3 linked regions of the Homo sapiens genome follow. The protein of the gene in region 2 interacts with the protein of the main gene of each other region in a pairwise test. Each region holds a gene or a part of one and is shown on either strand. Other genes may lie near its edges.

Region 1 (12,264 bases), on a different chromosome or scaffold from region 2:
GTCACTCAACTATGCAAGCCTTGTGTGGTCAAGTGTAACCTAACTTCAGAGATTCTTATGTTCATAGTTTCATGTGCATCCATGTGAAGAGACCACCAAACAGGCTTTGTGTGAGCAATAAAGCTGTTTATTTCACCTGGGTGCAGGTGGGCTGAGTCCGAAAAGAGAGTCAGCGAAGGGTGATGGATTATCATTAGTTCTTATAGGTTTTGGGTTAGGCGGTGAAGTTAAGAGCAATGTTTTGTGGGCAGGGTGGATCTCACAAAGTACATTCTCAAGGGTGGGGAGAATTACAAAGAACCTTCTTAAGGGTGGGGAAGATTACAAAGTACCTTCTTAAGGGTGGGGGAGATTACAAAGTACATTGATCAGTTAGGGTGGGGCAGGAACAAATCACAATGGTGGAATGTCATCAGTTAAGGCTATTTTTACTTCTTTTGTGGATCTTCAGTTACTTTAGGCCATCTGGATGTATACGTGCAAATCACAGGGGATGCGATGCTTGGCTTGGGCTCAGAGGCCTGACACATAGGGCCCTTTTCCCTAGCAATCTTAAAGATACTGTCTTAGTCTTTGGTGCCCTAAGATTCATCCCAAATCGAGTTGGTTACCCTGATACAACCGTTCATATAAAACTAGACTAAAATACCTTGTCAAATCAATCATCTTGGTTTCCAGGCTCTGGTTTTTAACCTTTCCACTAAGGTGACTTTGGCTCTTACCTGCTCTCTCACCCATTATCAGTTGATCAGATTGGGAATCAACCCCTAGTGATGCATTTCTTCCAGATTCTTAGTGGAGAGCTCACTGTAACCTCCTGGGCTGACTGTAACAGAAATGTAAATGAATGAGACAGTTCTTTTCAAAGTTAAATTGGAATCCTTAACATCCAGGCATTTATACTCAATGCAGGTAGTGGGTCAGTGAATGATGTCTTGAAAAGTATGTCTTGAAAAATAAATGTGATACCAGAAAATGGTTACAACTCTTTGCAGTGGTAGAATTGTCTGCTCCGACAGGCCATTGCCTGGAATTGTGGTGAAGAAAGGGGAGATGAAGTCACTGGATATTAAGGATGCAGGTCATGAGTTGTCACAGTCTTCTCTCATTTCCTATACTTTTCCTGAAAGAGGCTAGAAGCAAGAAAAATAGACTCTAAATGTCTGTTGTTCAAGTCAGAATAACCATTTATATCTTAAATATTTATTGATAGTAGTGTTTTGGGGTGGGCGGCAAAAAGCTTTAGTCTATTGCTTGCATCTGAAATTAAAGATCCATGAGACCATTATAAAATAAGTCTGAGTCTTATCAGTTAATTTTAATCTCCCTACTAGCTGTTTCATGGTTTTTAACAGTGGAAAAAACAAGTTTACCACACTCCTGGCCCTTATTTATACTCTGATTAATGGAACACATAAATACTAAAAGGAATGCAGTAAAAAGGAAGTATACAATCAAACTATAATTTGCAAGTGAATTATAGTTGTGTTTCTTTCCACTTGTATACAATCCCATGTTTCATGCTTCTATCATAAGAATAAGTACATTGGCTCACCCTCATATGCACAATGCCATTGGAGATCTTCTCTACAAATAACAATAGGAGACAAGAAGAACAACCATGTATTTAAGCAAGTAGAGCCTGTTTAATTATAGACATTGGGAAAAGCCTAATTATATTTTTCGTGCTATATTATCCTGCAACCCCTGCTGCTGTTTTTTTCTGTATAAAAGTCTTGCTTGATGATATGTGAATCAGTCAGAACTTCAATTACCCTTTTAAAGAAGCATTTTTATACTGTATATGGTTTGATAAAGGAAATAATGCCTTACCACATTTTCTTCGCCATTATCGGGTGCACTGGGACAGCGCTCACCAGGAGGGACACAACATCTTTCTACAGGAAAAAAAAAGAGAACTTAAAAATAATTTCTTTGCAAACACCAAAATTCTCCCTTAGTCCTATCTCAATATAATCATGTTATTAGAATCATCTGAGTTACTCTCCCTGCATATCTTTAACAAACAACATGAAAAATGCATTCAGTGTAAAAACACATCATCAGAAGCAGCAGTAAATGTGTATGGTTGATCCAGGTGCTCCAAAGCCGGGGAATAAAGGCAGTTCAGTCAGCTCAGCAATTCCTGGCTCCTTGTGATCCTTGGCCTGGTTCCTACCAACTGCTAACAATGGAAATGTCATAGCCAAAGAGGGGATGAGAGTGATGGTTAAAGAAAAAGGGATATGTCATTTCTCAAAGAAGGTCTCCTTATGGACTTTCCTAAAATATGGCCCTTTAATACATATCTTAGACAAAGTACATTTTAAAACAGTAATAGAAAAGGGAATTTAAAAATAAAACATATGAACCACAGTCATGAAACTACAACCAGGGAGCTGGAGCTAGGAAAGGTTTTGTGGCTTTTCATATAACAGCTTCAAATATATTTTCAGCCCATCTCACTGCAGAAGTATGGAATATATCTATTTTTTAAAGTGGCCAATACTGTGACAGAGTTTTTGCCGATATCTTTTGACTGCTCCTCCAGAACCAGAATCCATTCTTCTCTCAGACATGGGAGGCTGACCTTGTTGGGCTCCATCAGCAGGGTGTCTGCTCCTCCTGGCTTCTAGCTGGGCTGTAGATCAGAGACAGGGAAGAGTGAAATTAGGTATTTACTCTCCCAGCTGTTTCCCTGTAAGGTCACCTTGGTATGGCTCTGTCCTTCAATTGAAAGTCACTCTCTGGTTCTTTGAAGGGTTTTTCGTGTGTCTATCTCCTTCATTTCTGCTCTGATCTTAGTTATTTTTTGTCTTCTGCTAGCTTTTGAATTTGTTCGCTCTTGCTTCTCTAGTTTTTTAATTTTTTTACTTGATGTACAATTTATTTTTATTTATTTTGTATTATTATTATTCTTTTAAGTTTTAGGGTACATGTGCACAACATACAGGTTTGTTACATATGTATACATGTGCCATGTTGGTGTGCTGCACCCATTAAATCATCATTTAGCATTAGGTATATCTCCTAATGCTATCCCTCCCCCCTCCCCTACCCCACAAGAGTCCCTGGTGTGTGATGTTCCCCTTCCTGTGTCCATGTGTTCTCATTGTTCAATTCCCACCTATGAGTGAGAATATGCCGTGTTTGGTTTTTTGTCCTTGCGATAGTTACTGAGAATGATGATTTCCAATTTCATCCATGTCCCTACAAAGGACATGAACTCATCATTTTTTATGGCTGCATAGTATTCCATGGTGTATATGTGTCACATTTTCTTAATCCAGTCTATCATTGTTGGACATTTGGGTTGGTTCCAAGTCTTTGCTATTGTGAATAGTGCCGCAATAAACATACGTGTGCATGTGTCTTTATAGCAGCATGATTTATAGTCCTTTGGGTATATACCCAGTAATGGGATGGCTGGGTCAAATGGTATTTCTAGTTCTAGATCCCCGAGGAATCGCCACACTGACTTCCACAATGGTTGAACTAGTTTACAGTCCCACCAACAGTGTAAAAGTGTTCCTATTTCTCCACATCCTCTCCAGCACCTGTTGTTTCCTGACTTTTTAATGATCGCCATTCTAACTGGTGTGAGATGGTATCTCATTGTGGTTTTGATTTGCATTTCTCTGATGGCCAGTGATGGTGAGCATTTTTTCATGTGTTTTTTGGCTGCATAAATGTCTTCTTTTGAGAAGTGTCTGTTCATATCCTTTGCCCACTTTTTGATGGGGTTGTTTGTTTTTTTCTTGTAAATTTGTTTGAGTTCATTGTAGATTCTGGTTATTAGCCCTTTGTCAGATGAGTAGGTTGCGAAAATTTTCTCCCATTCTGTAGGTTGCCTGTTCACTCTGATGGTAGTTTCTTTTGCTGTGCAGAAGCTCTTTAGTTTAATTAGATCCCATTTGTCAATTTTGTCTTTTGTTGCCATTGCTTTTGGTGTTTTAGACATGAAGTCCTTGCCCATGCCTATGTCCTGAATGGTATTGCCTAGGTTTTCTTCTAGGGTTTTTACGGTTTTAGGTCAAACATGTAAATCTTTAATCCATCTTGAATTAATTTTTGTATAAGGTGTAAGGAAGGGATCCAGTTTCAGCTTTCTACATATGGCTAGCCAGTTTTCCCAGCACCATTTATTAAATAGGGAATCCTTTCCCCATTGCTTGTTTTTGTCAGGTTTGTCAAAGATCAGATGGTTGTAGATATGCGGCATTATTTCTGAGGGCTCTGTTCTGTTCCATTGGTCTATATCTCTGTTTTGGTACCAGTACCATGCTGTTTTGGTTACTGTAGCCTTGTAGTATGGTTTGAAGTCAGGTAGCATGATGCCTCCAGCTTTGTTCTTTTGGCTTAGGATTGACTTGGCAATGCGGGCTCTTTTTTGGTTCCATATGAACTTTAAAGTAGTTTCTTCCAATTCTGTGAAGAAAGTCATTGGTAGCTTGATGGGGATGGCATTGAATCTATAAATTACCTTGGGCAGTATGGCCATTTTCACGATATTGATTCTTCCTACCCATGAGCATGGAATGTTCTTCCATTTGTTTGTATCCTCTTTTATTTCATTGAGCAGTGGTTTATAGTTCTCCTTGAAGAGGTCCTTCACATCCCTTGTAAGTTGGATTCCTAGGTATTTTATTCTCTTTGAAGCAATTGTGAATGGGAGTTCACTCATGATTTGGCTCTCTGTTTGTCTGTTATTGGTGTATAAGAATGCTTGTGATTTTTGCACATTGATTTTGTATCCTGAGACTTTGCTGAAGTTGCCTATCAGCTTAAGGAGATTTTGGGCTGAGACGATGAGGTTTTCTAGATATACCGTCATGTCATCTGCAAACAGGGACAATTTGACTTCCTGTTTTCCTAATTGAATACCCTTTATTTCCTTCTCCTGCCTGATTGCCCTGGCCAGAACTTCCAACACTATGTTGAATAGGAGTGGTGAGAGGGCATCCCTGTCTTGTACCAGTTTTCAAAGGGAATGCTTCCAGTTTTTGTCCGTTCAGTATGATATTGGCTGTGGGTTTGTCACAGATAGCTCTTATTATTCTGAGATACGTCCCCTCAGTACCTAATTTATTGAGAGTTTTTAGCATGAAGGCGTTGTTGAATTGTGTCAAAGGCCTTTTCTGCATCTATTGAGATAATCATGTCGTTTTTGTCTTTGGTTCTGTTTATATGCTGGATTACGTTTATTGATTTTCATATGTTGAACCAGCCTTGCATCCCAGGATGAAGCCCACTTGATCATGGTGGATAAGCTTTTTGATGTGCTGCTGGATTCGGTTTGCCAATATTTTATTGAGGATTTTTGCATCAATGTTCATCAAGGATATTGGTCTAAAATTCTCTTTTTTGGTTGTGTCTCTGCCAGGCTTTGCTATCAGGATGATGCTGGCCTCATAAAATGAGTTAGGGAGGATTCCCTCTTTTTGTGTTGATTGGAATAGTTTCAGAAGGAATGGTACCAGCTCCTCCTTTGTACCTCTGGTAGAATTCGGCTGTGAATCCATCTGGTCCTGGACTATTTTTGGTTGGTAAGCTATTGATTATTGCCACAATTTCAGAGCCTGTTATTGGTCTATTCAGAGATTCAACTTCTTCCTGGTTTAGTCTTGGGAGAGTGTATGTGTCAAGGAATTTATCCATTTCTTCTAGATTTTCTAGTTTATTCACGTAGAGGTGTTTATAGTATTCTCTGATGGTAGTTTGTATTTCTGTGGGATCAGTGGTGATATCCCCTTTATCATTTTTTATTGCATCTATTTGATTCTTCTCTCTTTTCTTCTTTATTAGTCTTGCTAGCGGTCTATCAATTTTGTTGATCTTTTCAAAAAACCAGCTCCTGGATTCATTGATTTTTTTGAAGGGTTTTTTGTGTCTCTATTTCCTTCAGTTCTGCTCTGATTTTAGTTACTTCTTGCCTTCTGCTAGCTTTTGAATGTGTTTGCTCTTGCTTCTCTAGTTCTTTTAATTGTGATGTTAGGGTGTCAATTTTGGATCTTTCCTGCTTTCTCTTGTGGGCATTTAGTGCTATAAATTTCCCTCTACACACTGCTTTGAATGTGTCCCAGAGATTCTGGTATGTTGTGTCTTTGTTCTCATTGGTTTCAAAGAACATCTTTATTTCTGCCTTCATTTCATTATGTACCCAGTCGTCATTCAGGAGCAGGTTGTTCAGTTTCCATGTAGTTGAGCAGTTTTGAGTGAATTTCTTAATCCTGAGTTCTAGTTTGATTGCACTGTGGTCTGAGAGACAGTTTGTTATAATTTCTGTTCTTTTACATTTGCTGAGGAGTGCTTTACTTCCAATTATGTGGTCAATTTTGGAATAGGTGTGGTGTGGTGCTGAAAAGAATGTATATTCTGTTGATTTGGGGTGGAGAGTTCTGTAGATGTCTGTTAGGTCCACTTGGTGCAGAGCTGAGTTCAATTCCTGGATATCCTTGTTAACTTTCTGTCTCATTGATCTGTCTAATGTTGACAGTGGGGTGTTAAAGTCTCCCATTATTATTGTGTGGGAGTCTAAGTCTCTTTGTAGGTCACTAAGGACTTGCTTTATGAATCTGGGTGCTCCTGTATTGGGTGCATATATGTTTAGGATAGTTAGCTCTTCTTGTTGAGTTGATCCCTTTACCATTATGTAACGGCTTTCTTTGTCTCTTTTGATCTTTGTTGGTTTAAAGTCTGTTTTATCAGAGACTAGGATTGCAACTCCTGCATTTTTTTGTTTGTCATTTGCTTGGTAGATCTTCCTCCATCCCTTAATTTTGAGCCTATGTGTGTCTCTGCACGTGAGATAGGTTTCCTGAATACAGCACACTGATGGGTCTTGACTGTTTATCCAATTTGCCACTCTGTGTCTTTTAATTGGAGCATTTAGCCCATTTACATTTAAGGTTAATATTGTTATATGTGAATTTGATCCTGTCATTATGATGTTAGCTGGTTATTTTGCTCGTTAGTTGATGCAGTTTCTTCCTAGCCTCGATGGTCTTTACAATTTGGCCTGTTTTTGCAGTGGCTGGTACCGGTTGTTTTTTCCATGTTTAGTGCTTTCTTCAGGAGCTCTTTTAGGGCAGGCCTGGTGGTGACAAAATCTCTCAGCATTTGCTTGTCTGTAAAGGATTTTGTTTCTCCTTCACTTATGAAGCTTAGTTTGGCTGGATATGAAATTCTGGTTGAAAATTCTTTTCTTTGAGAATGTTGAATATTGGCCCCCACTCTCTTCTGGCTTGTAGAGTTTCTGCCAAGAGATCAGCTGTTAGTCTGATGGGCTTCCCTTTGTGGGTAACCCGACTTTTCTCTCTGGCTGCCCTTAACATTTTTTCCTTCATTTCAACTTTGGTGAATCTGCCAATTATGTGTCTTGGAGTTGCTCTTCTCGAGGAGTATCTTTCTGGCGTTCTCTGTATTTCCTGAATTTGAGTGTTGGCCTGCCTTGCTAGATTGCAGGATATTATCCAGGAGAACTTCCCCAGAGTGTTTTCCAGCTTGGTTCCATTCTCCCCATCACTTTCAGGTACACCAATCAGACGTAGATTTAGTCTTTTCACATAGTCCCATATTTCTTGGAGGCTTTGTTCATTTCTTTTAATTCTTTTTTCTCTAAACTTCTCTTCTCGCTTCGTTTCATTCATGTCATCTTCCATCACTGATACCCTTTCTTCCAGTTGATCGAATCAGCTACTGAGGCTTGTGAATTCGTCATGTAGTTCTCGTGCCTTGGTTTTCAGCTCCATCGGGTCCTTTAAGGACTGCTCTGCATTGGTTATTCTAGTTAGCCATTCACCTAATTTTTTTTCAAGGTTTTTAATTTCTTTGCCATGGGTTCGAACTTCCTCCTTTAGCTCAGAGTAGTTTGATCGTCTGAAGCCTTCTTCTCTCAACTCGTCAAAGTCATTCTCCGTCCAGCTTTGTTCCGTTGCTGGTGAGGAGCTGCGTTCCTTTGGAGGAGGAGAGGCGCTCTGATTTTTAGAGTTTCCAGTTTTTCTGCTCTGTTTTTTCCCCATCTTTGTGGTTTTATCTACCTTTGGTCTTTGATGATGGTGACGTACAGATGGGTTTTTGGTGTGGATGCCCTTTCTGTTTGTTAGTTTTCCTTCTAACAAACAGTCAGGACCCTCAGCTGCAGGTCTTTTGGAGTTTGCTGGAGGTCCACTAAACAGGTCCACCCAGACACTGTTTGCCTGGGTATCAGCAGTGGTGGCTGCAGAACAGCGGATACTTGTGAACTACAGATGCTGCTGCCTGATCGTTCCTCTGGAAGTTTTGTCTCAGAGGAGTACCCGGCCGTGTGAGGTGTGAGTCCGCCCCTACTGGGGGTTCCCCCCAGTTAGGCCACTCGGGGGTCAGGGACCCACTTGAGGAGGCAGTCTGCCCGTTCTCAGATCTCAAGCTGCGTGCTGGGAGAACTACTACTCTCTTCAAAGCTGTCAGACAGGGACATTTAAGTCTGCAGAGGTTACTGCTGCCTTTTGTTTGTCTGTGCCCTGCCCCCAGAGGTGGAGTCTACAGAGGCAGGCAGGCCTCCTTGAGCTGTGATGGGCTCCACCCAGTTCGAGCTTCCTGGCTGCTTTGTTTACCTACTCAAGCCTCGGCAATGGTGGGTGCCCCTCCCCCAGGCTCGCTGCTGCCTTGCAGTTTGATCTCAGACTGCTGTGCTAGCAATGAGCGAGACTCCGTGGGTGTAGGACCCTCTGAGTCATGCACAGGATATAATCTCCTGGTGTGCCATTTGTTAAGCCCATTGGAAAAGCGCAGTATTAGGGTGGGAGTGACCCAATTTTCCAGATGCCGTCTGTCACCCCTTTCTTTGACTAGGAAAGGGAATTCCCTGACCCCTTGTGCTTCCTGGGTGAGGTGATGCCTCACCCTGCTTTGGCTCACACATGGTGCACTGCACCCACTGTCCTGCACCCACTGTCAGGCACTCCCCAGTGAGATGAACCTGGTACCTCAGTTGGAAATGCAGAAATCACCCGTCTTCTGCGTCGCTCACGCTGGGAGCTGTAGACCGGAGCTGTTCCTATTCGGCCATCTTGGCTCCTCCCCCCGTGAATCTCTAGTTTTTTTCATTGTGATGTTAGGGTGTTGATTTTAGGTCTTTCCTGCTTTCTGATGTGGGCATTTGGTGCTACAAATTTCCCTCTCAACACTGCTTTAGCTGCGTCCCAGAGATTCTGGTACGTTGTGTCTTCATTCTCATTGGTTTCAAAGAACTTATTTATTTCTGCCTTAATTTAATTATTTACCCAGTAGTCATTCAGGAGCAGGTTGTTCAGTGTCCTTGTAGTTGTGTGGTTCTGAGTGAGTTTCTTAATCCTGAGTTCTAATTTGATTGCACTGTAGCCTGAGAGACTGTTTTGATTTCCATTCTTTTCATTTGCTAAGGAGTGCCTTACTTCCAATTATGTGGTCGATTTTAGAATAAGTGCTATATGGTGCTGAGAAGAATGTATATTCTGTTGATTTGGGGTGGAGAGTTCTGTAGATGTCCATTAGGTCCGCTTAGTCCAGAGCTGAGTTCAAGTTCTGAATATCCTTGTTAATTTTCTGTCTCATTGATCTAATATTGACAGTGGGGTGTTAAACTCTCCCACTATTATTGTGTGAGAGTCTAAGTCTCTTTGTAGATCTCTAAGAACTTGCTTTATGAATCTGGATGCTCCTGTATTGGGTGCATATATATTTAGGATAGTTAGCTCTTCTTGTTGCATTGATCCCTTTACCATTATGTAACGTCTTTGTCTTTTTTGATCTTTGTTGGTTTAAAGTCTGTTTTATCAGAGACTAGAATTGCAACCCCTGCTTTTTTTTTTTTTTTTTTTTTTTTTTTTTTTTTTTGCTCTTCGTTTGCTTGGTAAATATTCCTCCATCCCTTTATTTTGAGCCTATGTGTGTCTTTGCATGTGAGATGGGACTCCTGAATACAGCACACTGATGGGTCTTGACTCTTTATCCAATTTGCCAGTCTGTGTCTTTTAACTGGGGCATTTAGTCCATTTACATTTAAAGTTAATATTGTTAAGTGTGAATTTGATCCTGTCATCATGATGCTGGCTAGTTATTTTGCACATTAGTTGAGGCAGTTTCCTCATAGTGTTGTTGGTCTTTATATTATGGTGTTTTTTTGCAGTGGCTGGTACTGGTTTTTCCTTTCTGTATTTAGTGCTTCCTTCAGGAGCTCTTGTAAGGCAGGCCTAGTGGTGACAGAATCCCTCAGCATTTGCTTGTCTGTAAAGGATTTTATTTCTCCTTCACTCATGAAGCTTAATTTGGCTGGTTATGAAATTCTGGGTTGAAAATTCTCTTCTTTAAGAATGTTAAATATTGGCCCCCACTCTCTTCTGGCTTGTAGGGTTTCTGCAGAGATATCCATTGTTAGTCTGATGGACTTCCCTTTGTAGGTAACCTGACCTTTCTCTCTGGCTGCCCTTAACATTTTTTTCCTTTGTTTCAACCTTGGAGAATCTGACAATTATGTGTCTTGGGGTTGCTCTTCTCAAGGAGTATTTTAGTGGTGTTCTCTGTATGTCCTGAATTTGAATAGTGGCTTGTCTTGCTAGGTTGGAGAAGTTCTCCTGGATAATATCCTGAAGTGTGTTTTCCAACTGGGTTCCATTCTCCCCATCACTTTCAGGGACCCCAATCAATCACCGGTTTGGTCTTTTCACATAGTACCATATTTGTTGGAGGCTTTGTTCATTCCTTTTCACTCTTTTTTCTCTAATCTTGTCTTCACACCTTATTTCAGTAAGTTGATCTTCAGTCTCTGATATCCTTTCTTCTGCTTGATCGATTCGGCTACTGATACTTGTGTATGCTTCACGAGTTCTCATGCTGTGTTTTTCAGCTCCATCAGGTCATTTATATTCTCCTCTAAACTGGTTATTCTAGTTAGCAGTTCCTGTAACCTTTTATCAAGGTTCTTAGCTTCCTTACATTGGGTTAGAACATGCTCCTTTAGCTCAGAGGAGTTTGTTATTACCCACCTTCTGAAGCCTACTTCTGTCAATTTGTCAAACTCTTTCTCTGTCCAATTTTGTGCTCTTGCTGGAGAGGAGTTACAATCATTTGGAAGAGAAGAAGCATTCTGGTTTTTTAAATTTTCAGCATTTTTGTGCTGGTTTTTCCTCATCTTCATTTATTTATCTACCTTTGATCTTTGAGGCTGATGACCTTTGGATGTGGTTTTGTATGGGGGTCCTTTGTGTTGATGTTGATGTTACTGCTTTCTGTTTGTTAGTTTTTCTTCTAACAGTCAGGACCCTCTTCTGCAGGTCTGCTGCAGTTTTCTGGAGGTCCACTCCAGTTCCTATTTGCCTGGGTATCACCAGTGGATGCTGCGGAACAGCAAAGATTGCTGCCTGCTCCTTCCTCTGGAGGCTTTGTCCCAGAGGGGCACCAGCCTGATGCCAGCTGGAGATCTCCTGTATGAGGTGTCTGTCAACCCAGGAGCTGCTATTTTGAAAAGATTAACAAAATAGATAGACTGCTAGCCAGACTAATAAAGAAGAAAAGAAAGAAGAATCAAACAGACACAATAAAAAATGATAAAGGGGATATCACAACTGATCCCACAGAAATACAAGCTACTATTAGAGAATACTATAAACACCTCTAAGCAAATAAACTAGAAAATCTAGAAGAAATAGATAAATTCCCGGACACCCTCCTAAGACTAAACCAGGAAGAAGTCGAATCTCTGAATAAACCAATAACAAGTTCTGAAATTGAAGCAGTAATTAATAACCCACCAGCCAAAAAAGCCCAGGACCAGACAGATTCACAGCCGAATTCTACCAGAGGTACAAAGAGGAGCTGGTACCATTCCTTCTGATACTATTCCAAACAACAGAAAAGGAGGGACTCCTCCCTAACCATTTTATAAGGCCAGCATCATCCTGATTCCAAAACCTGACAGAGATACAATAAAAAATGAAAACTTCAGGCGAATATCCCTGATGAACATCAAAGCGAAAATCCTCAATAAAATACTGGCAAACTGAATCCACAGCCCATCAAAAAGCTTATGCACCATGATAAAGTTGGCTTCATCCTTGGGATGCAAGGCTGGTTCAACATATGCAAATCAATAAATGTAATCCATCACATAAACAGAACCAGTGACAAAAACCACATGATTATCTCAATAGATGCAGAAAAGGCCTTCAATCAAATTCAACACCACTTCATGCTAAAAACTCTCAATAAACTGGGCATTGATGGAACATATCTCAATATAATAAGAGC
Region 2 (8,295 bases):
CAAATTTTAATGACATTATTCCATGTTTTCACACTCCCACATATTATAATGACATCAGTAATAATAACAACAGCAGATGCTGTGGCAGCAACAGTTCATGTTTATATAATATATACTATAAGGTTGGGACTTTTCTAAGAACTTTACCTTGATTATCTCACTGTTATTATTTCTACTTCATCCATGAGAAAACTGAGGCTAACTAACTTGGCTACTGTACTAACAAGTAGAGGAACTAGGATTCGAATCCAGAGAGGATGACTCTGTACTGCATTAATTCAACTAATTTTCATAGAGCAACTACCATGTTCTAGGCCCTGGGGCAGAGGTGGAGAATTAAAGAGCAAAACGTCTTGCCAGCATGGACCTTCTATTCCACCAGGAGGAAACAGACAAAATCCAACAAGTTTAATACAAAATGTGTGTATTTTAGGGAGCGTGGTAAGTGCTGGGGAGAAAAATAAATCAGGAAAGTGGGTAGAGGGTGATGGGTGATCAGAAAGACCTTACTAACAGTGACATCGAATAGGCACCCGAAAGAGGTGGGGTAGGGAATTTCAAGTAAGAAAGACATCAGGTGCAAAGGCCCTGTGGCTGGGGCTTGCTTGGTGGGTTCAAGGATCAGGATGGAAGTCTGTATCGCTGCAGCTGAGGCGACAGACAAAGGGGAGGGCAGTAAAGACCAGGCCAGGAAGGTCAGAGCATGTGACACTTCTAAGTACAGTTGGGCTTTTATCTAAAGATCATGCAGGCTGCTGTGTTGATTACAGGCAGCAGGAGTTTAAGCAGAAAGGTAGGGAGACCTATTAGGAGGCTTTTCTAAGACCTAAGAGACAGAGGCCGTGGCTTAGACTAGGGCTGTGTGTGAGAAGAGGTCAGATTTGGAATATATATGGAAGGTAGAACTGACAGAATTTTCATTAATAGCCTATTCTCTAAACCACTGTGCCACTCTTAAAATATTTATTCACATTTATAATTGAAATTAAAAATGAAGACATTCTCTGTTTCTGTTAAATTAATCAAAGAACATTTTATCTGCTGCAAGACAATGAGCCCAAAGGAGACCATTTGTCTGCAAGGAGGCTCGGTGGTGGGAAGTGCAGGAGTCTTGGCTCAGGACGGAGGGTGACCGAATGGTCCCGGTATTGGCACTGAATCCTGCATCCCAGGAAACGCTTGAGTTCCAAGCAACCTGGGATGGTTGGTCACCCCACTCAGACACGCGGTTCGCATCCCACCTCTTTCACTCTTCACTCCGGAACTTGGTACAAATTGTTTAAGGCCTCGACTCTCAGTTTCCCTATCTCTAAGTGGAGATAATAATCTACTTGCTGAGCTGTTCTGAGAGTCTTAGAGGTCCTGGATATGAACGTGCTTTGTGAACTGTGAGACACTAAGAATTAAAGCACAAGAATTGTTCTTTAATAACACGTTACGCAGGACCTTTGCATCGGGGGTACTCGGGCCCTGGACCGCCCTGCTTCCTCTGCAGGAAGGAAGTCAGGAAGCCACTCTCCTGCTGGGAGCCTGAGGTGGAGGGCGGAGTGCCACGACGTGGCCGATCCCCATGAACAGTGGTCTGGGCTCTGGAGCGTCCCTCACAACCTTCAGGACTCCCAGGGCTCCCGCAGTGTTTCCTAAGACCCCACAGTGAGGGAGTTGAGGGCCCCGTGGAGGAAGGGGCTGCGTGTGAGGGGCTCTGGAACACAGGGGGGCGCGCTAGAGTAGGGAGGCAGTGGCAGATAGTAGGACTTCCTTACTGGGCGCTATGTCTGGAACCCATGCTACTAAGAGACCATGGGAAGGCTTAAATATCTCCTGAAATCACATCCAGAAAAAAAGAATATAATCGAGCTTGTCACCAGAACAATTACAAAACGATTTAATTGATACTTTCAGGGGTGGGGAGAGGTCCACAAAGGCAAAAGTGTCGAAAGCTACTAGAAACATAAGGTAGCCCTGGAGGGAGACAGAGTCCAACTGGCTTGGGCAGCATCTCCATCCACACAGAGTTCTGTGGATTCATGTTCAGTTTGCCTGGTGCCCTCTTTTCACTAATCCAGAGACAGCATCTCTTGAATAAGAGCTACTCCGTTTCCAGCAATAAGAAAGAGATTGGAGCATGGTTGGTTGCTTACCTATCTGTCTGTCTATCATCTATCTATTTATTTTTATACAGACTTAGACAGTCAACACAGTAAGTGTGACCAGGAGTACCATTGCTTCTGTGTATGGGCTGTGATTAGTAAACATGTTGTCACAGAGAACTTAAATTCCCAGTTTGAGGACTGATGTACCACATCTCTTTGTGGGTGATGTTTGCTGGATTGAGTAATTCTGTTCACCCTGTCTAATTCATTTATTAAAAAGTCTTTGGAAAAGACCTGAGATTAAGTTAATATGGTCTTTTGTAGGTTATATCCTTGAAACTTTCATAAAAGTGTGCACCAACAACTTATCCCAAGTCTTTATCAATGATTTTCAAACTGTGACACTGTGTTCTGAAACCCCACCCCCAGCCCTGACACACACACACACACACACACACACACACACACACACACACAATTTCTCTTCAGAGACCCCTTAGGGGCTGCATTGGGGGTGTGTTTTTAAGATGATATCACAAGCAGAATGAAGCTCCTGATCCCCCTCCCTTTTTTTATTTATAGCAATTCTGGTTCACTTGTGGGTGTCATATAAGGTTTTATTTGAACGACAGGTTCTGTGGCTAAATAAAACTTATAAACCATTCTCTCTAACTGGAAGATGTATTTTTTTCCCATGACGATATTATTGAACATCAATATACCTTACAGTAAGACGTGTGTGTGTGTGTGTTTGTGTGTGTGTAAGCAATTTAAAGGAAATAATAATTTATATCCTAAGGATAACATTTTACGTATGACATTTTTATGTGGAGTATCCTGTTTAACAGCTGAATATTGACTGGTTGTTACTGGTTAGAAAAGCCCTGCAACCTTTGACATGCTCTGAGATCTCAACTGGTTAAAGAATCAGAGAAATTATATTTTTGGCATTAAGATAAATGCTTCTATCAAGTTTTTCGATTCATGAGGTGGAGGGAAGGAGGAATGTTACAATTCTAACTCTTAAAGCAACTATTTAAAAAATGGATAAGTTGGCTCTATCTAGTTGACTTTGGATACAGATAATTCAACCATATAAACATTCTCTTGGAAAATAACTCCACAAAGGTAAATCCACTTATTTGTAAATGGGGGTAGGGGTGGGGAGAGAATTTGAGTGTGAGCACCTGGAACAAAAGCACTTTTTTCCATTGAAAAAATTCTTCCTGGGGTTGATTTCCATAATGGTACATTTCCTGTTTATAAATCCTAGTCATCAATCATCAAATTGTGTTTAATGAGCACCTGTGTAGATCATAGATTCCACAGTTCATCCTCAAAACTCAAATTTTGAATTGCCTCTTGCTTTAAGAATTATAGTCCACCCCCAGGGTTTGTTCCTGGTTTGTCTGGCACCTTTGCTCCTGACTGAACTTGAATCAAGGTGCAGGATTTCAGTGTCTTCTCTTACTCCCCTCCCTACCTTTCCTCGACACCAAGATCTCCGAACCTCAGCATTATTGACATTTTGGGCCAAATAATTACCTGTTGGGAGGGTTGCCTTTGCATTGTAGGATATTTGGCAGCATCCCTGGCCTCTAGCCACTAGAGGCCATTAGCATCCCCTTCCCAGTTGTGATAACCATAAAAGTCTCCAAATATTGCCACATGTTCCCTTTAGAAGTAGGGAGGGAGGAAAACCATTGCTCTAATCCATGAGGATCCCAAGACTCTGGAATCCTGCTAGGAATTACCTGGCCACTACTGGACATGGTCAAAGAAACTTTAGACCCGTGTGATTTACCCAAGTCAATGTTCTCAACCCTTGCTGCATTTTAGAATCACCTGAGATGTTTACAAAGGACCAACTGGGCACCAGTATTTTTTCAAAAGTTCCCCCAGGAAATTCAAATTTGTAGACACAATAGACAACCTCTGAACTAGACGTACTTAGTAATCTTAATACTTATAAAAACCAACCAAGCAACCAACAATGACCGAACAATTTTATTTCAAATAGGAAATATCCAGGTAGCTTCAAAGCAAGAAAAAAAAATCCCGTATGTCCATAGATTGTAGAACATAAGTCATCAGAAACATTTCACATTTAATTTCTGCTGTTCTGATATCAGCACAAAGCAGTTGGGAAACCTAATGCCTTTGGGAATTCTGGGCTTTTTGACAGTTTGACTGAAGGTGCATCCCTTGATGTAGAGCATCCCCTGGTGCTTGTAACTCATAGGCGATCTTTTGTCAAAAGTAACATCTATTAGAGAACTTCAAGGGGAAAAGACTGAGCCAGAGGAAATCCCCTGAATGTAATGTTTGGTGCTGGCAGGAAGCAAGATCAAGACTTAGCAAGACCAGAGGTGGCTTAGGAAGGGAGGCCTTCTCATAATGTTTTTCAGCAAATGAAAGTTATGATTAAATTGCTACCACTTTCCTTCATCTGTACTCAGTAAGTGTGGGAATAGACCCAGACAATGAGGGTCTTTGTATCTTAAGATTGAGGAACATTTTGTCCAGAGGTGTACATATTCTAGAAGCTGCCAATTCCACTTCTGGCTAGCAAGGAAGATTTGGCAAAGATTGTCAGCCAGCTACTGATCTTCTGAAAGGTAGAGGAATGCATTAGATAACATTCAACTTTCAGTGTGCTCTTGGACAACTCAACTTATCTTCCCTAAGATTTTGTTTCTTTATCTGAAAAATGGGCAATGTGGCATTTGCCTCACATAGTCATTATGAGGATTAAATTAGATAATGGGTGTGAAAGTGCCTTGTGAATTGTTAAGCCCAATAAGGTAATATCTTTTTGGAGACCTCCCACTCTGAAGATTCAGCTAGACCAGGATCCAGTGGCTTTCAGTTTTGGCTTCTAGGGCATGTGTAAAATAATGGACAAGCACAGTCGTTGATATAACTTGTCAAATGTCTGTTCTCAAGTGGGCAATTAGGAAAATACATTTGAGCTAAAAAGACAGAGTGATGTATTTTTCATGACTGAGGTTACAATGGTATTTTAGGTTATTATATACTAAAGACCAGGAAATTAATTGGTGTCCTCTAAAATGCAGGAGAGCAAGAGATTAATCTGATAAATGGTTTCCATTAAAAATTCCATTTGGCTTCTCAAATTCATCTTGTCTCCTGCAGTTTCTGAATGCCACAATGTCCTCCCCTTGTGCCTTCCAGCTGCATTCTCTTGCTCCCTACACCACTAGGTTTGGAGAATATCAGTATTTATACAAATCCAGTAGCATAGCGGGAACTGGAAGCTTAACCCATTAGCTCCCTAATTCATGAATATGTTGACTGAAACCATAGTTTTGTCTTTCAATTTAGGGTTTGGTTGGTACTCAGAATGTAATCTTTGTCGATACTGAAGAAAAGGGTTTTGGTGACACCATTTCATACAGATAGTGCAGCTGAAACCACCCAAATGGGACTATCGTCAAGATGCCGAGTTATTAGTGCTTACCTAGCAAGAATTCCCATCGAGGATGAAATAAACAGGGCAGGAGAGAAGGCTGTTTCAGGGGACAGTCAGCGTTATTCTGGGGGGTGGGGGTGGGGGACAATGGTAGAGAAGTGGTCATTGTTTCCAAACTTTTATGCAGATGCTTTTCCAATTAGATGTCCCATATGGCTAGCAGACAAAACTGGGTGGATTCCACCTCAGGCTTACAAGAACACAGACACTTAGATGCCATCTTTCTGAAGAGAATCCCAAACTGACTGCAAATCCAGAGCTGAGCATGCCACTACATGATGACACTGAGTTCATATTTCTCTGGTTTGTCCTCAGATTGTTCTGTCTTAAAGACTGAGTCAGGCTCTGGATGGTGGATTTCAATGACAAGAACATAGATGAGGCCTCCAATGACAGCACCAACCAAAGGGCCCACTACAGGAATCCACCAGAAGTTGTTTCCAGCTCTGAAATCAAACAAGAAATTAGTGATACATTTCTTGGCCTTCCTCCTGGTATTACTGTCTAGTTTTTCACTCACTTGTTAGTCTTTCTCACACTCATGGTTCCCTCTTAACTCAGCAAGAGCTAAGTATAAGGGGGGCTCAGTGCAGCATGGCAACTGCCATCCTTGACTTTCCACTACACCTGATTTCAGATGATCTATTTAATTGTCCTACTAATATTTGTGAGATATTATGTCTTATTTATTTTCTTTTTATAAAATATAGTGCCTGAGCCCATCGTTAAGATTGAGGGCCCCTAAGAAAGTTCAGGTCAATTATTCAGAATTGCCTTTCCCTCATCCTGAAATAATGATTCCTGTGGATTACAAGCAGAATGTGGAGAGATTCCTGGGCATCATTAGTGTATGAGGACAATCAAACTAATCAATCAGGAAATGTTTTTCAATGAATGAATGAATTTTTAAAAAATCTAAGGTGGATGTGTGAATTGCCTTCTAAATATAATTTAAATCAGTACTTATTTTTTAAGATCTTAGCTTGAGGCTACCCTCTGATAAGGCTGTCATGCCATGGCTCTCTCTCTTCCAGAAATCCTCAATGTTAGTACATTACAGCAAAGCTATAGTTCTGGGGAAAAGCAGGTATCTTTGTGAGTTGTCACCATCTTCTTTGGAGAGAGAAAATCCATGTAAATAATTTCTTAGAAAGGATCAGGAAAGCAAACAAATTATACAGTATATTGTTTAAGGATATATACATTTAAGATAAAAGTATTTTTAAAAAGCAGGGGAATGGAAAACACAAAACTTCAGGATAAATGCAGAGGGGATGGGAGACAAGAGGAGTACCCAGAGGCATGTAAGAATTTCAGTGTTCTAGTTGGATTCTAGAAGGACCCATAGCTTTTCTTTTCATCATTATGCTGAATAACTACACATATGTTCCATGTGGCCTTTTGTATATCTCAAACTTTGATTAGAAAGAACGATAAAGGAAATAAGCAGGACACAAGAACCCTGTCCTAGAATCCAGGAAACTAAGTCTAATCTCAAGATTATCTAGAAGGTCTTTGAGCAAATCAAACCCCCATTCCCCATCGTGAGCTCCATTTCCTTCATCTGCATGGTCCCTTCCACCTGGGGCACCTAAGTGGTCTCCGAAGTCCTCCATTGCCCTTGCAGGGTTGATGGAAGAGCACTGAGCCTGAGCATGGCAGCCACCAGATGTCACTCTTACCACACGGCAGCGAGGATGCTGTACTCGGCCGCCCTCACAGTGCCCTTCCCCAGGCCCCAAATCCAGATGGATTTTTCTAGGGGAGGCACATGGAGGGTGGCTGCCTCTCCCGTTTGGCTGTAAAGACTTGAAGTCTTCTCTAGAGGTCAAAACATGAAGGGAGTATAAGCTACCTGTTGGGTCCATCATTTCCTTTTATGGCAAATTTCTTCCTGTCATTTAGCAGATGAAGGTCCAAGATATCAGCCAGGGTACACGTCCTCTTCACTGGCTGGATGCTTTTTATTTTATCAGATTGGACATGTTGTATCAGGTTCACAAGTCACAAATGGAGGCGCTCAGATGTGGTTACCTGCCTAGCCTAGTCCTATATGCACACAAATAGTGATCATTTGCACACTATGATTCGGGAGATGCCAGGAACATGTGTATGTTAACTGTCTAAAGGACCATCTTTAGGGATTCAATACTTTGGGCCAACTATTTGAAAAATTTAATAATACTCCTGAGAGCTTTCACTGATTAAGTCATTAACAATGTGAATAAGTGGAGAGAAATTTGATGGGAAACATCTTAACATTTAAAGGAAAAACCAAGAGTCTTTGGCCAGGGTCTGTTGACTCTTGCCCTCATCAAACCCTCTGGCATCTCGCTGTACCTGCCATCATTCCACTGCTTGCCGTTCAGGAGTACATGGGGACCTGGGAACAAGGTAGCCTTGTTTTTTTTCTAAGACCTTAGGTGTAGGTCCAAGCTAGGATATCTACTGAGGGATTTCCCTTGAATATAGAACTCTGAGGAAATGAGACACTCTAAGAACACTTTGGAAGCCTGTTGTCCCTCAAAGGTTTTGGGGAGAAATTTTTGGTTGAGGATTACCAGCCAACCCTGCTCTTTCCTAATGGGTTTCTACTTCCCCACTCTCTCCTTTTTCAATCAGTCTTATAGGATGATGCCAGATTAATTTTGCTAAATTGACATTCTAAACCTGCCAAACTTCTGCCCCAAATACTTTGCTACTCCCTAT
Region 3 (12,162 bases), on a different chromosome or scaffold from region 2:
CACGTTGTTGGTTTCTTGACGTGGCAGCTGGCCTCCAGGATGGCTTCCGTTGTGTGATGCCTTCCATTGAGTGTGGGCTGGACCTGGTGACCCACTTCTAATAGATATGACAAGGAGGAAGGGATGGCGCATGAGTCAGACACAGAGTGTGACATCAGCCCCACTGGTCCTCATACTGGTTATGGTGGGGAACCATGTCACAAGCAGCCCCAGGAAGAGGCTCATGTGGCAGGAGCCTGAAGTTCCCACCAGCCATTGTGGCCCACCAGTTCCAAGACATTCTCCAGAGCCCAAAGTCCCAGCCCAGAACATGACCACAGCCTCATTGCAAACCCTGAGCCAGAACCACCCAGCTGGGCCACTCCCCACCTCCTGACCCTCAGAAATCATTGTTTGAAGCTGCTCTGTTTGGAGACAATTTCTTATGCAGCAAGAAATAACACACTCCATTTTGTTTTTCGTTAAATAATGTTAGACTCCGTGTGGCTACAGTTAAATTATTTTTAACGTGTTGGATCTTCCCAATACTTGCTTTTAATTGTATTCGAATGGGTTCAGAACAGCCCTTGCTAACCCCGCTACCAATTCAGTCTCTTTTTGAGAATTCTGCCCGCTGCCTCGTGTATTCTGAAGGCTTTCTTCTCGGCTGTGTGAGTTCTAAGAGTCACTCCATTGACCATTTCCGAGGTTTCCTTCCTGCCCCTCTGTGTGTCTCCTGAGCGCTCCGTGTAGCCCTTTCTCTCCGAAGCTTTGCCCAGCAAATTCGAGTCCCTCCGCCTCCCCACACTCTAACACTCTTCTCCTCAGCGTGTGTGGGGTGGCGCCCTGGGATCTGTTTGGGTTCGTTTGCCCTGAGCCAGGCCTTGCTGGGGTCACAGAGCTCAGCACTCGTGTTGTGTCTTTCAGGGATCATGATCCTTCGCGGCCTGTTGTCAAATATCCAGAAAGCACTGCTTCCGAAATCTCCTGGATTTCTAGTTGTTTAAGGTGAGCAAATACGATACCTGCTATTGTATGTTAGCCAGGAGGGGAAGTTTGAGTTGTGTTGTTATTTTTTAGCTTTTGTTTTGAAATAACTATAGATTCATGGGAAGCTGCAAAAATAGTACAGAGGGGTCCTGCTGTGCATAGCTACAGTCAGACCTCACATAACTACTGTGTGAAGATTTACATAACCATACATCGTGCAGAACCAGGTCTTATTCGTATTTCACCAGTTTTCTATTCATTTGTGTGTGTGTGTGTGTGTGTGTGTGTGTGTGTGGTTCTATGCAATTTTTTACATGTGTAGATGTGTGTAACCACTGCGGCAATCAACATATAGAATGGTACATCCCCACAGAGATCTCTTGTTCTACCCCTTTACAGACACACCCATTCCCCAGGCCCAGCCCTTGGCTACCACGAATAAGCTTTCCATTTCTTTTTTCTTTTTCTTTCTTTTTTTTTGAGACTGAGTCTGGCTCTGTCTCCCGGGCTGGAATGCAGTGGCGTGATCTTGACTCACTGCAAGCTCCGCCTTCCGGGGTTCACGCCATTCTCCTGCCTCAGCCTCCCGAGTAGCTGGGACTACAGGCGCCTGCCACCACGCCCGGCTAATTTTTTCTACTTTTTAGTAGAGACGGGGTTTCACCGTGTTAGCCAGGATGGTCTCAATCTCCTGACCTCGTGATCCGCCCGCCTTGGCCTCCGAAAGTGCTGGGATTACAGGCGTGAGCCACCGCGCCCGGCCTCAGCTTTCAATTTCTATAATGTCATTTCGAGAATATTGTATAAACAAAGTCATAGAGTATGCGACCTTTTGGGGTTGGCCTTTTTCACTCAGCGTAGTTCCCTTGAACGCCCTCCTGCTGCTGTGGGTATCAGCAGTTCACCTCGTTTTATGGCTGAGTCTCCCATAAGGCAGATGTACTCGTCTGTCTAACCATTCATTCACGGATGGAGTTTTCCAGTTATTAGCTATTACAGGCAAAGCTGCTGTGGACAATTGTGTACCGGGTTTTCTGTGTCCATTTATCCCATTTCTCGGGATAAATGCCCAGGAGTAAAACTGCCAGGCTGTATAGTAAGCATATGCTTATTATTTTTGTGTTGTTTTGTTGTTTTTTTACACGGAGTCTTGCTCTGTCACCCAGGCTGGAGTGCAGTGGCGCAATCTCGGCTCACTGAAGCCTCCACCTCCCAGGTTCAAGCGATTCTCCTGCCTCAGCCTCCTGAGTAGCTGGGACTACAGGTGCACACCACCACACTCAGCTAATTTTTTGTATTTTTAGTAGAGATGGGGTTTTACCATGTTGGCCAGACTGGTCTCGAACTCCTGACCTCAGGTGATCCATCCCCCTCTGGCCTCCCAAAGTTGGGATTACAGGCGTGAGCCACCACTCCTGGACCAGCATATGCTTAGTTTTAAAAGAAACTTCCAGCTGGGCGTGGTGGCTCACACCTGTAATCTCAGCACTTTAGGAGGCCAAGGTGGGAGGATCTCTTGAGCCCAGGAGTTCAAGACCAGTCTGGCCAACATAGTGAGACCCAGTCTCTATTATTTAAGCTTAAAATTTTTTAAATAAAAAACAAAAGCAACTTCCAATTTCCAGCATGGCTGAACCATTTTAGAGCCACTCAAAGTATGCATTTCTCAACATTTTGAGAGATTCAGTTTGTCTCCATCCCCACTAATATTTGGTTTGGTCCCTACTTTTCATTGTAGCTGTCCTAATAGGTCCCTACTTTTCATTGTAGCTGTCCTAATAGGTCCCTACTTTTCATTGTAGCTGTCCTAATAGGTCCCTACTTTTCATTGTAGCTGTCCTAATAGCTGGGCTGTGATAGCTCACTGTGGCCTTAATTGGTGCTCCTTGATAGTCAATGACATTGAGCATCTTTTTAGGTGCTTATTTGCCACCCATAGATCTTCTCTGGGGAGATGTTCCTTCATGGTTTTTGCCCATTTTCTAGGTGGATTTTATTTTTGCTGTTGAATTTTCAAAGTTCTCTATATCTTCCAGACACCAGTCCTTTGTTGGATATGAAACTTTCAAATGTTTTCTCCAAGTTTGTAGCTTGCCTCTTCATCCTCTTTTTTTTTTTCTCTCTCTCTCTCTCTTTGTTTTTTGAGACGGAGTCTCACTCTGTCACCCAGGCTGGAGTGCAGTGGCGTGATCTTGGCTCACTACAACCTCTGCCTCCTGGGTTCAAGTGACTCTCCTGCCTCAGCCTCCTGAGTAGCTGGGATTACAGGCATGTGCCACCAGGCCTGGCTAATTTTGTATTTTTAGTAGAGATGGTGTTTCACCATGTTGGCCATAGGTGGTCTCGAACTCCTGACCTCAGGTGATCCGCCCACCTCGGACTCCCAGAGTGCTGGGATTACAGGTGTGACCCATCACGCCCGGCCCCGTTCATCCTCTTAACAAGGTCTTTCTGGAGCAAGAGTTTCAGATTTTGATGCAGTATGATTTACCAGTTTTTTTCTTTTGTGGATCTTGCATTTGGTGTCAAGTCTAAGAATTCTTTACCTAGCCCTACGTCCTGAAGATTTTCTCTCACGCTTTCTTCTAAAAGTTGTATAGTTTTATGTTTTACTTTTAAACTATGAGTTAATGCATATGTCAGGTGTGAGTTTTAGATGGAGGTTCTTCGTTTGCATGGGATCGATTGCACGTGATGAATTGCTCCAGCACCATTTGTTGCAAAGACTGTCCTTCTTTTAGAGGGACTCCCGCTTGCCAGGCCTCTGGTTTAATGAAACATGACCAGAGTGACTCCATCTTAACGTGAATAACTAGACACTCACAAGGCACCTATAAGGTTATATAACGAGGCTATGCTGCTCGATACTGACTACGACAATTTCCTGTTTCTCTGCCTACAGGACACCACCACCCCCATCCAGAGCATGATGTGCCAGTACCTGGGTGGGTCTCACAGCACATGAGCTCAACGTGGGTGAGAGGCAGCAGCTACTTCCATGGCTGGGAACCCTGGGGAGCTGACAACTGGCTTCCTGTCCACCTCAGTGCCTGTGGGCTGGTTTTTTCTTTCTTGGTTTTTTTTTTTATTTGTTTGTTTGCTTTGTTTTTTTTGAGACAGGGTCTCATTCTGTCACTCAGGCTGGAGTGCAGTGGCGTGATCTCGGCTCACTGCAACCTCCACCTCCCAGATTCAAGCGATTCTCGTGCCTCAGCTTCCCGAGTAGCTGGGATTACAGGCGCGAGCTTATGGTCTGAAAATACCCGCATACTAAGCTGACCACCAATTATAACTGCAGAACATTTATGCCCATACGAGGCATCTCCCACCAAGCCTGGAGAATGTACCGATGACCTGGGAGTGCAGGGGGTTATCTTTGCTCACAAATAACGTCAACGAGTAGGCTGAGGCTGAAGGGCAAATGGTCATTGATCACACTAGGAGCCCCTATCTTTAGCGAGTGCATCTGCATGATCCAGGTTTCACTGTAGCTCATTACAGCTTCTTACAAACAGAGGCACTCACAGAGGACGGGCGTTCCTCCTGCTCGCTGAGGTTGCCCGGCTCTGGCACAGAGTCATTTCCCATAAACTTGCTTTCACTGTGCTCTGTGAGTCACCTTGAATTCTTTCCCGTGTGAGATCTAAGAACCCATTCTTGGGGTCTGGACTGGGACCCTCTTTTCCGACAACACTTCCCCCACGCACTGTTCTTGCAGCTTTGTTAAAGGTCTGTTGTTGTTGTGTGTGAGTCCATGTTTGGACTCTCTATTTCCCATTGATCTATGTGTCCATTTCTCTGCCAATACCACAATCTCTTGGTGACTATTGATAATAGTGCTTGTAAACTTGGGTAGACTAACTCTTTATACTTTATTCTTCTTCAAAATGGCTTTAGCAATTGTAGCTCCTTTGCCTTGACATGTAAATTTTAGAAAAAAAAATTTCTCTATATATCTACATATGGTGGGGTGTGGTGGCTCACACCTATAATTCCAGCACTTTGGGAGGCCGAGGTGAGCAGATCACTTGAGGTCAGCAGTTCGAGACCAGCTTGGCCAAAATAGTGAAAACCCCTCTCTACTAAAAATACAAACATTAGCCAGGTGTGGTGGTGGGCGCCTATAATCCCAGCTACTCTGGAGGCTGAAGCAGCAGGATTACTTGAACCTGGGATGCAGAGGTTGCAGTGAGTCAAGATCGTACCACTGCACTCCACCCTGGGCAACAGAGCAAGACTTGGCCTCAAAAAAATGTATATATGTATATATGTGTGTGTGTGTGTCACACACATGTCTATAGCTACCTACAAAATATCTTGCTGAGAATTTGATAGGAATTGCATTAAATCTCTAGGTTGAGTTGAGGAGAGCTAACACCTTTGCTGTGTTGAAGCTTCCAGCCCATGAACACATTGTGCCTGTCCTTTACCTTAGGTCTTTGATTTCCCTTCCTTGGGTTCAGAGTTTAAGTCCTGTCCATATTTGGTGAGATTTTTGCCTACATGCTGTGTGTGTGATTACAAATCCTGAATTTCCAGTTTCGGGTTCTGTCTACTCCTTGACACTGTGTGGGAACACGGTGGATTTTTGTGCGATTGACCTTGCTGACCTCACTCGGTTCTAGGAGGGGTTTTGTAGAGTTCTTGCAATTTTGTACCTGGGCAATGATGTTATATGCGAATAGAGACAGGTATACCTCCCCCTTCCCAATCTGCCTGCCTTTAGTTACCATTTCTTGCCTAGCTGCTCTGGCCGGAATGACCTGCTCTGATGGATGGGGGAGTGGGAGTGGACACCCGTGTCTTGCCTCAGGACTCAAGTGCTCTCCAGGGAGTGAGATGCGGGCTCGATTGTAAGTTACAAAGTGATGCTTCCCTGTGGGAAAAAGTACATCCAATATAGACTGTAGGACAAAGTCTGAAAGTCCACTGCCTCCCATTTCCACCCAGTCTTGCCTGTGAGTCAGAGAGAAACAGTGCTAACAGGCAGTGTGCACCTGTCCAGAGGCTGGCTGTTTGAGGGACACAGGTGTGCACACCTGGGGATGTCTGAGTGGAAGGTACAGGTCAGGATTATGACCGTGCAGTCAGTCACCCACTGGCATGATGTCTGTGGCATCCTGGGGCAGCCATGGGGCTCTCAGGCCCTCTGCCTGCCCCACAGGCCATACCCCTGCCCTGGACACAGCTGTCCTCAGTGCTGGCCTCTGACCCAACATTGTCCAGGAGCCCCAACCCAGAAGGTGCTCCCGCCGCTGCCAGCCTGGACCCGACCCAGGCCCCTCCCGCCTGAGGCCCTGCCAAGAACTGCCCAGCCCGGACACAGAGGAGGTTCCCGCGTGGACGCAGGGAAGAGCCTCCCATTGCCCCAGTGGAGGAAGCTGCCCAGGGGCCAAGGATGAGTCACAGGTTCGAGGAATCACATGGCGAGGCTGTGGGCGGGGATCTTGTCTGCCCTCCTCCTACATAAGGCCCCCTGAGCCCACACTGCCTCAGCATCCCTCTGGCTCCAGAGCTCAGAGCCACCCACAGCCGCAGCCATGCTGTGCCTCCTGCTCACCCTGGGCGTGGCCCTGGTCTGTGGTGTCCCGGCCATGGACATCCCCCAGACCAAGCAGGACCTGGAGCTCCCAAAGGTTTGAGGCTGGGGGAGCGGGCACTTTACTGTGGGAGGCCTGGGGCGGGTGGGAGCTGCGGGCAGGCAGGAAGCCCAGGATCTCAGAAACCTACAGGAAGCACAGAATGGACGCCATGACGTCAGGAAGCCCTCAGCCCTGCTCTCCATCTTTAGGGTGGCCTCTCTGGTTTCCCAGCATCCTAGGTGACTCATTATTTGGACTTTGGAACACTCCTGAGTTAGCACACACTGGTCATTTTAAGTACAGGAAATTTCATAGCCCAGGATCTGGTAGATAGCAGACAACCATCCAATGCTCACTGTACCCATCCCAGTTAGACTCAGCCCCGTCTGCACCGGGTGCAACGAGAGCCATGGTGGGGTGGGACCGCCGTGCAGCCCAAGGCCCCCTCAGTTGGCAGGGACCTGGCACTCCATGGCCATGGCGACCAACAACATCTCCCTCATGGCGACACTGAAGGCCCCTCTGAGGGTCCACATCACCTCACTGTTGCCCACCCCCGAGGACAACCTGGAGATCGTTCTGCACAGATGGTGGGTTTCTCATCATTGAGACGGGCTGGGCGGGGGCTCAGTCTCCCCCCTCAGGGGTCCAGGACTGGGTGGGTTGGGCGGAGCTGGACTTAGCCCCAGGCATTTTCTGACAGCCAGGGGCTTCACTGTGGCCCTTCCATGAGGGTGGGGTGGAAAACCAGGGCTCCAGACGTTCCCTGTCCCCTTGGATCCCCTGCCCCAGGCTCTGGGCCAACAGCCAACCACACAGTGCAGCCCCAGGTCAGACTGAGGAGAAGGTCTGGGCGGCTGCGGGCTGCGGTGCTCCTTGGACCCGGGGAAGTTCCCGTGGTGACCTGATTTTAGGAGTGACAGTGAAGGCAACTCCAATTCAAGTGGCCACTCATCCTATTGTCACCACCTTTCAGGGAGAACAACAGCTGTGTTGAGAAGAAGGTCCTTGGAGAGAAGACTGAGAATCCAAAGAAGTTCAAGATCAACTGTGAGTGTCCCCAGGCCCCAAGGGCTGGCTCAGTGCTGGCATGCTAGCCACGCTCTCCCAGAGGCGGCTCTGCTGGGGCATGAGGGAGTGGGGCCTGGCCTGTCCCCACTCTCTCTGCTTCAGGGAGTCAGAGTGTTTACTCCGGTCAACCTGATGCTGACCCCAGAGGCATCTTTTACCTGGAGGGCAGGGGAAGCACTAATTCTTGGCATGACATGACTGGATGTGGGTCTGCACTGTGCCCAGGCACAGGGGACAGGTGCTTTGTTGCACTGTTCACTCTGGCCTCACAAAAGGCCAGGGAGGCTGCAGGCGAGCAGGTGGGCAGGTGGGCAGGTGGGTAGGTGGGTAGGTGGATATGTATACAGGTGGGCAGGAGGGTAGGTGAACAGGTGGGTAGGTGGGCAGGTGGCTAGGTGAGTAAGTGGTTAGGTGAACAGGTGGGCAGGTGAGCAGGTGGTTAGGTGAACAGGTGGGCAGGTGGGTAGGTGGGTAGGTATACAGGTGGACAGGTGGGTAGGTGGACAGGTGGGCAGGTGAGTAGGTGAACAGGTGGGTGGGTGAACAGGTGGCCAGGTGAACAAGTTGGTAGGTGGGCAGGTGGGTAGGTGAACAGGTGGGCAGGTGGGCAGGTGGGCAGGTGGGCAGGTGGGCAAGTGGCTGCTGTTCCCGTGGGCCTGGCTGCCTCCTGCGCACTCTGGGGCTGCAGCTCTGGTCTTAGGCTGAGCTCCCAGGCCTCTCTGGGGGAAGAGAGAGGGGCTTACAGCATGTCCTTGGTCCACTGAATTCTTCCTAACAATTTGCAACATTTTGTTCTATTTTGTTAATTATTATTTTTTTAAAAAGACAGAGGTGGTCAGGGTCTGGGGCCTCTTATCCCCTCATGGGCACATTTTCCCAGCAAATACAGTTTGCTTCTCATGCTTGGGACTTGCCTCAGGCCTTTCTGACCCTGCTTGCCCTCCCCAGAATCGAGCCACTCTCCAAGGTCCATTTCTTCTCCCTCTTCCCGCCCCTGTGCCCTGTTCCTGTGCCATCTCCCGCCATCCTCACCCGTACGTGACTTCTCAGTTGGAGTCTCTCCAGGTCACAGCCTCCCTGCCTGCCGTGTCTGCCTCTCCACGGCACACCTGGCCTCTCCCCCTCAGCCGGGGCTCCATGGCCCTCCACATTGCCTCTCCTCCCCTTTCCTCCCTGGCTTCCCTGATCATGGTCCACAGCAGGGGCCACGTCCCATGGTGTCAGTGGATGAGGAAGCCACTTAGTGTGGTGGGATGTCCACACACCTGCACAGGACTCTGCTGAGACGGAGGCTTCATCTTCCTTTTGGTTCTTCTCTTCTTTCCCCAGATACGGTGGCGAACGAGGCCACGCTGCTCGATACTGACTACGACAATTTCCTGTTTCTCTGCCTACAGGACACCACCACCCCCATCCAGAGCATGATGTGCCAGTACCTGGGTGGGTCTCACAGCACATGAGCTCAACGTGGGTGAGAGGCAGCAGCTACGTCCGTGGCTGGGAACCCTGGGGAGCTGACAACTGGCTTCCTGTCCACCTCGGTGCCTGTGGGCTGACTTTTTTTTTCTTGGTTTTTTTTATTTGTTTGTTGTTTGCTTTGTTTTTTTGAGAAAGGGTCTCATTCTGTCACTCAGGCTGGAGTGTAGTGACGTGATCTCGGCTCACTGCAACTTCTGCCTCCCAGATTCAAGCGATTCTCGTGCCTCAGCCTCCAGAGTAGCTGGGATTACAGGCGCACGCCACCATGCCCAGCTAATTTTTGTATTTTTTGGTAGAGACGGGGTTTCACCATGTTGGCCAGGCTGGTCTCCAACTCCTGGATCAAGTGATCCACCCGCCTTGGCCTCCCAAAGGGCTGGGATTACAGGCGTGAGCCACCACGCCCGGCCAGGCTGAGTTTTTCTCCAGCGGTTCATCGAGTCCTCTGACAAAGCAAGGAGCTGATATAGGGCCAGTGGGACGGTCGCCAGTCAAGGGGCTGGGCTTGGTGGATAGATTAATACTCACTGGGCGTCCAGTCAAAACGCCCTGAAACCTATGATGCTGTCAACCAAACGAAGGCCAGGAATACCAAAATAGCCACATAGGCACAGCCCTTCCCCATGTTTCTGAGCACAGTGTTTCCTCTGGGGTCACACAGGTGTCTTCTTGATCAGCCTCAGCCATGCTTGGTGAGAGCCGGGCACTGGGAGAGCCAGGCACTGTGCTCTCCTGTGACGCTGTAGACACCATCCTAAGCTGTGCAGACCCCAGCGCTGCCCAGAGCGGAGCAGAGGGGGCCGGGCCAAGGAGTGGGAGCTGGGGTCAGGGAACCTGGAGGTGCAGTGGACAGAGCCCCGGAGACCGCCCTAGGGACCTACTCCAGACCAAACTCTGCCAGACCTCGGAGCACTGGGGCCTCCTTCTCTGCCCTCCCTCCTCAGGCAAGGCCTCTGGAGCTCCCCAGCTCTCATGGAAGCCCCAGGGGCCCAGGACTGACCCAGCCTCTTCCACAGCCAGAGTCCTGGTGGAGGACGATGAGATCATGCAGGGATTCATCAGGGCTTTCAGGCCCCTGCCCAGGCACCTATGGTACTTGCTGGACTTGAAACAGATGGAAGGTGAGCTCTGCCTAGGACACGCCCAGCCTCAGCTGGAGGAGAAGCTGCCTCTTTCTTAGCCCGAGCCCCCTGCTGGCTCTGCAGGACTCAGGTCACTCCTTTTTGGCCCCTCCCCTGTTCTCCCCTGGCCTTCTGGGGTGCAGAGCCACCCTGAGGTGGGGTCCTGCCCTCTCCCACCATCCTTTCATCCCTTCTCTAGCCCTGGGGCTGCTGTGTCCCCAGCTGTCTCTTCTCTCGCTGACACCTCCACTGTCCCATCTCCTCCCACAGAGCCGTGCCGTTTCTAGGTGAGCTCCTGCCTGGTCCTGCCTCCTGGGTAATGTATCAGCCTCGCCCACTGTCTGCGGCTGCCTCTCTGGGCCCCTGGGACAGACCCTACTGTGTCCAGTTCAGGGCTGACCCTACAGGAATGAACTGGGGTCTGGTCTTGTGATTCCAGAAAGCCAGGCTGCTGACGTCCCCATTCACGAGCCCAGCCTGTGTCTTGCAGCCATTGTATTAGTCACGGGCTTGTGCCCTATAGTCAGACCTCATGCTTTCTTTTGGGGTTAGGGGTGTTGGTTGGAAATGGTGGGGGCTATAGGAGGAGGAAGGAGGATGGTTACATGGAAGGGCATGAGAAGCTGGGGACCTGCAGGTCTCGGTCCCACGTTCTTTTTTTTTTTTCTTTTTTTAAGATGGAGTCTCGCTCTGTCACCAGGCTGGAGTGCAGTGGCACAATCTCAGCTCACTGCAACCTCGACCTCCTGGGTTCAAGCGATTCTCCTGCCTCAACCCCCCGAGTTGCTGGAACCACAGGCGTGTGCCACCATGCCCAGCTAATTTTTGTATTTTTAATAGAAACGGGGTTTCACCATGTTGGCCACGATGGTCTCAATCTCTTGACCTCATGATCCCCCCGCTTTAGCCTCCCAAAGTGCTGGGATTTCAGTGCCACATTCTTAAGGGGGTGTCCTCAAGCCCACCACATCCTTCCAGGGCTCCCCCGAAACACCCTGCTCTTCCTCCCTCTACTTAAGTGACCTGTAAACCCAACAGCTCACCTCCGCCTCCAGGAAGACCAGACTCCCACCCTTCCACACCTCCAGAGCAGTGGGACTTCCTCCTGCCCTTTCAAAGAATAACCACAGCTCAGAAGACGATGACGTGGTCATCTGTGTCGCCATCCCCTTCCTGCTGCACACCTGCACCACGGCCATGGGGAGGCTGCTCCCTGGGGGCAGAGTCTCTGGCAGAGGTTATTAATAAACCCTTGGAGCATGTCCTGTCTGGATGCGCAGCCACTGCTGGGTGTGGGATTCAGGGACGAGGGCCTGGGGTCGGGGCAGGCCCAGGCCACCGCCTGGCAGAACCGGAGCTCCTACAGACCCATGGGCAGCTTCTGGTGGAGAAAATACCTCAAGTTTCTTATCTACAAAACAAAAGGGTCCACTTTCACAAACTTGTGAAATGTCTAGAACAATAAAACCAGGACACTCATATCAGAATTGATGAGCCCAGAGGAAAACTCATAGTCTTTAATACTGAAATGGGTTAGCAAGAAATAATTAAAATCAATGAATCTGTAATGAGCTCTTGTTAGAAAAAAAAGCGTTAGAATGAGGAAAGTAAGAAAATAGAATGAAGGAAGATAAAAGCAAAAATGACAAAATCAGAGAAACATATCAAATTCATGCACCTGTGCCCCCAGGTGGGGAGGGGTGGGCATGGTAGGATTTAGCTCACCTGTCAGAAACACCCAGGAAAAAAAATTCCAGCAAGTATCAATCACCACAGATTAAGAGAAAATAGATTAAAAGAGTCATAAGGGATTATGCTATTTGACTCCAGAATATATTTTTTACAATCCAAAAGAGATGATTTCAAGGCAAATATAAGCATCCAAAACAGATCAGAGAAGACTGGAGACAGAGTAGGTAAGGACCCTTCCCAAGGCAGAC

The links.
Region 1: the proteins of AQP9 (region 2) and HHLA2 interact in binary tests that used the Homo sapiens proteins (3 or more experiments, as listed by UniProt).
Region 3: the proteins of AQP9 (region 2) and PAEP interact in binary tests that used the Homo sapiens proteins (3 or more experiments, as listed by UniProt).

The regions. Positions count from the first base shown.
Region 1 is NC_000003.12:108,366,127-108,378,390, reverse strand, and holds the end of HHLA2 (HERV-H LTR-associating protein 2 isoform a precursor), read right to left. Parts: intron 2,642-12,264; coding exon 2,591-2,641; intron 1,899-2,590; coding exon 1,834-1,898; coding exon of another isoform or gene 1,780-1,833; exon of another isoform or gene 1,134-1,779; coding exon 1,113-1,133; 3' UTR 106-1,112; downstream 1-105. UniProt on the Homo sapiens protein: Through interaction with TMIGD2, costimulates T-cells in the context of TCR-mediated activation. Enhances T-cell proliferation and cytokine production via an AKT-dependent signaling cascade.
Region 2 is NC_000015.10:58,181,698-58,189,992, reverse strand, and holds the end of AQP9 (aquaporin-9), read right to left. Parts: intron 6,033-8,295; coding exon 5,858-6,032; 3' UTR 4,082-5,857; downstream 1-4,081. UniProt on the Homo sapiens protein: Aquaglyceroporins form homotetrameric transmembrane channels, with each monomer independently mediating glycerol and water transport across the plasma membrane along their osmotic gradient.
Region 3 is NC_000009.12:135,555,293-135,567,454, forward strand, and holds PAEP (glycodelin isoform 1 precursor), read left to right. Parts: upstream 1-6,463; 5' UTR 6,464-6,509; coding exon 6,510-6,605; intron 6,606-7,001; coding exon 7,002-7,141; intron 7,142-7,527; coding exon 7,528-7,601; intron 7,602-8,951; coding exon 8,952-9,062; intron 9,063-10,045; coding exon of another isoform or gene 10,046-10,117; coding exon 10,118-10,222; intron 10,223-10,492; coding exon 10,493-10,509; exon of another isoform or gene 10,510-10,538; intron 10,539-11,241; exon of another isoform or gene 11,242-11,260; 3' UTR 11,261-11,663; downstream 11,664-12,162. UniProt on the Homo sapiens protein: Glycoprotein that regulates critical steps during fertilization and also has immunomonomodulatory effects. Four glycoforms, namely glycodelin-S, -A, -F and -C have been identified in reproductive tissues that differ in glycosylation and biological activity.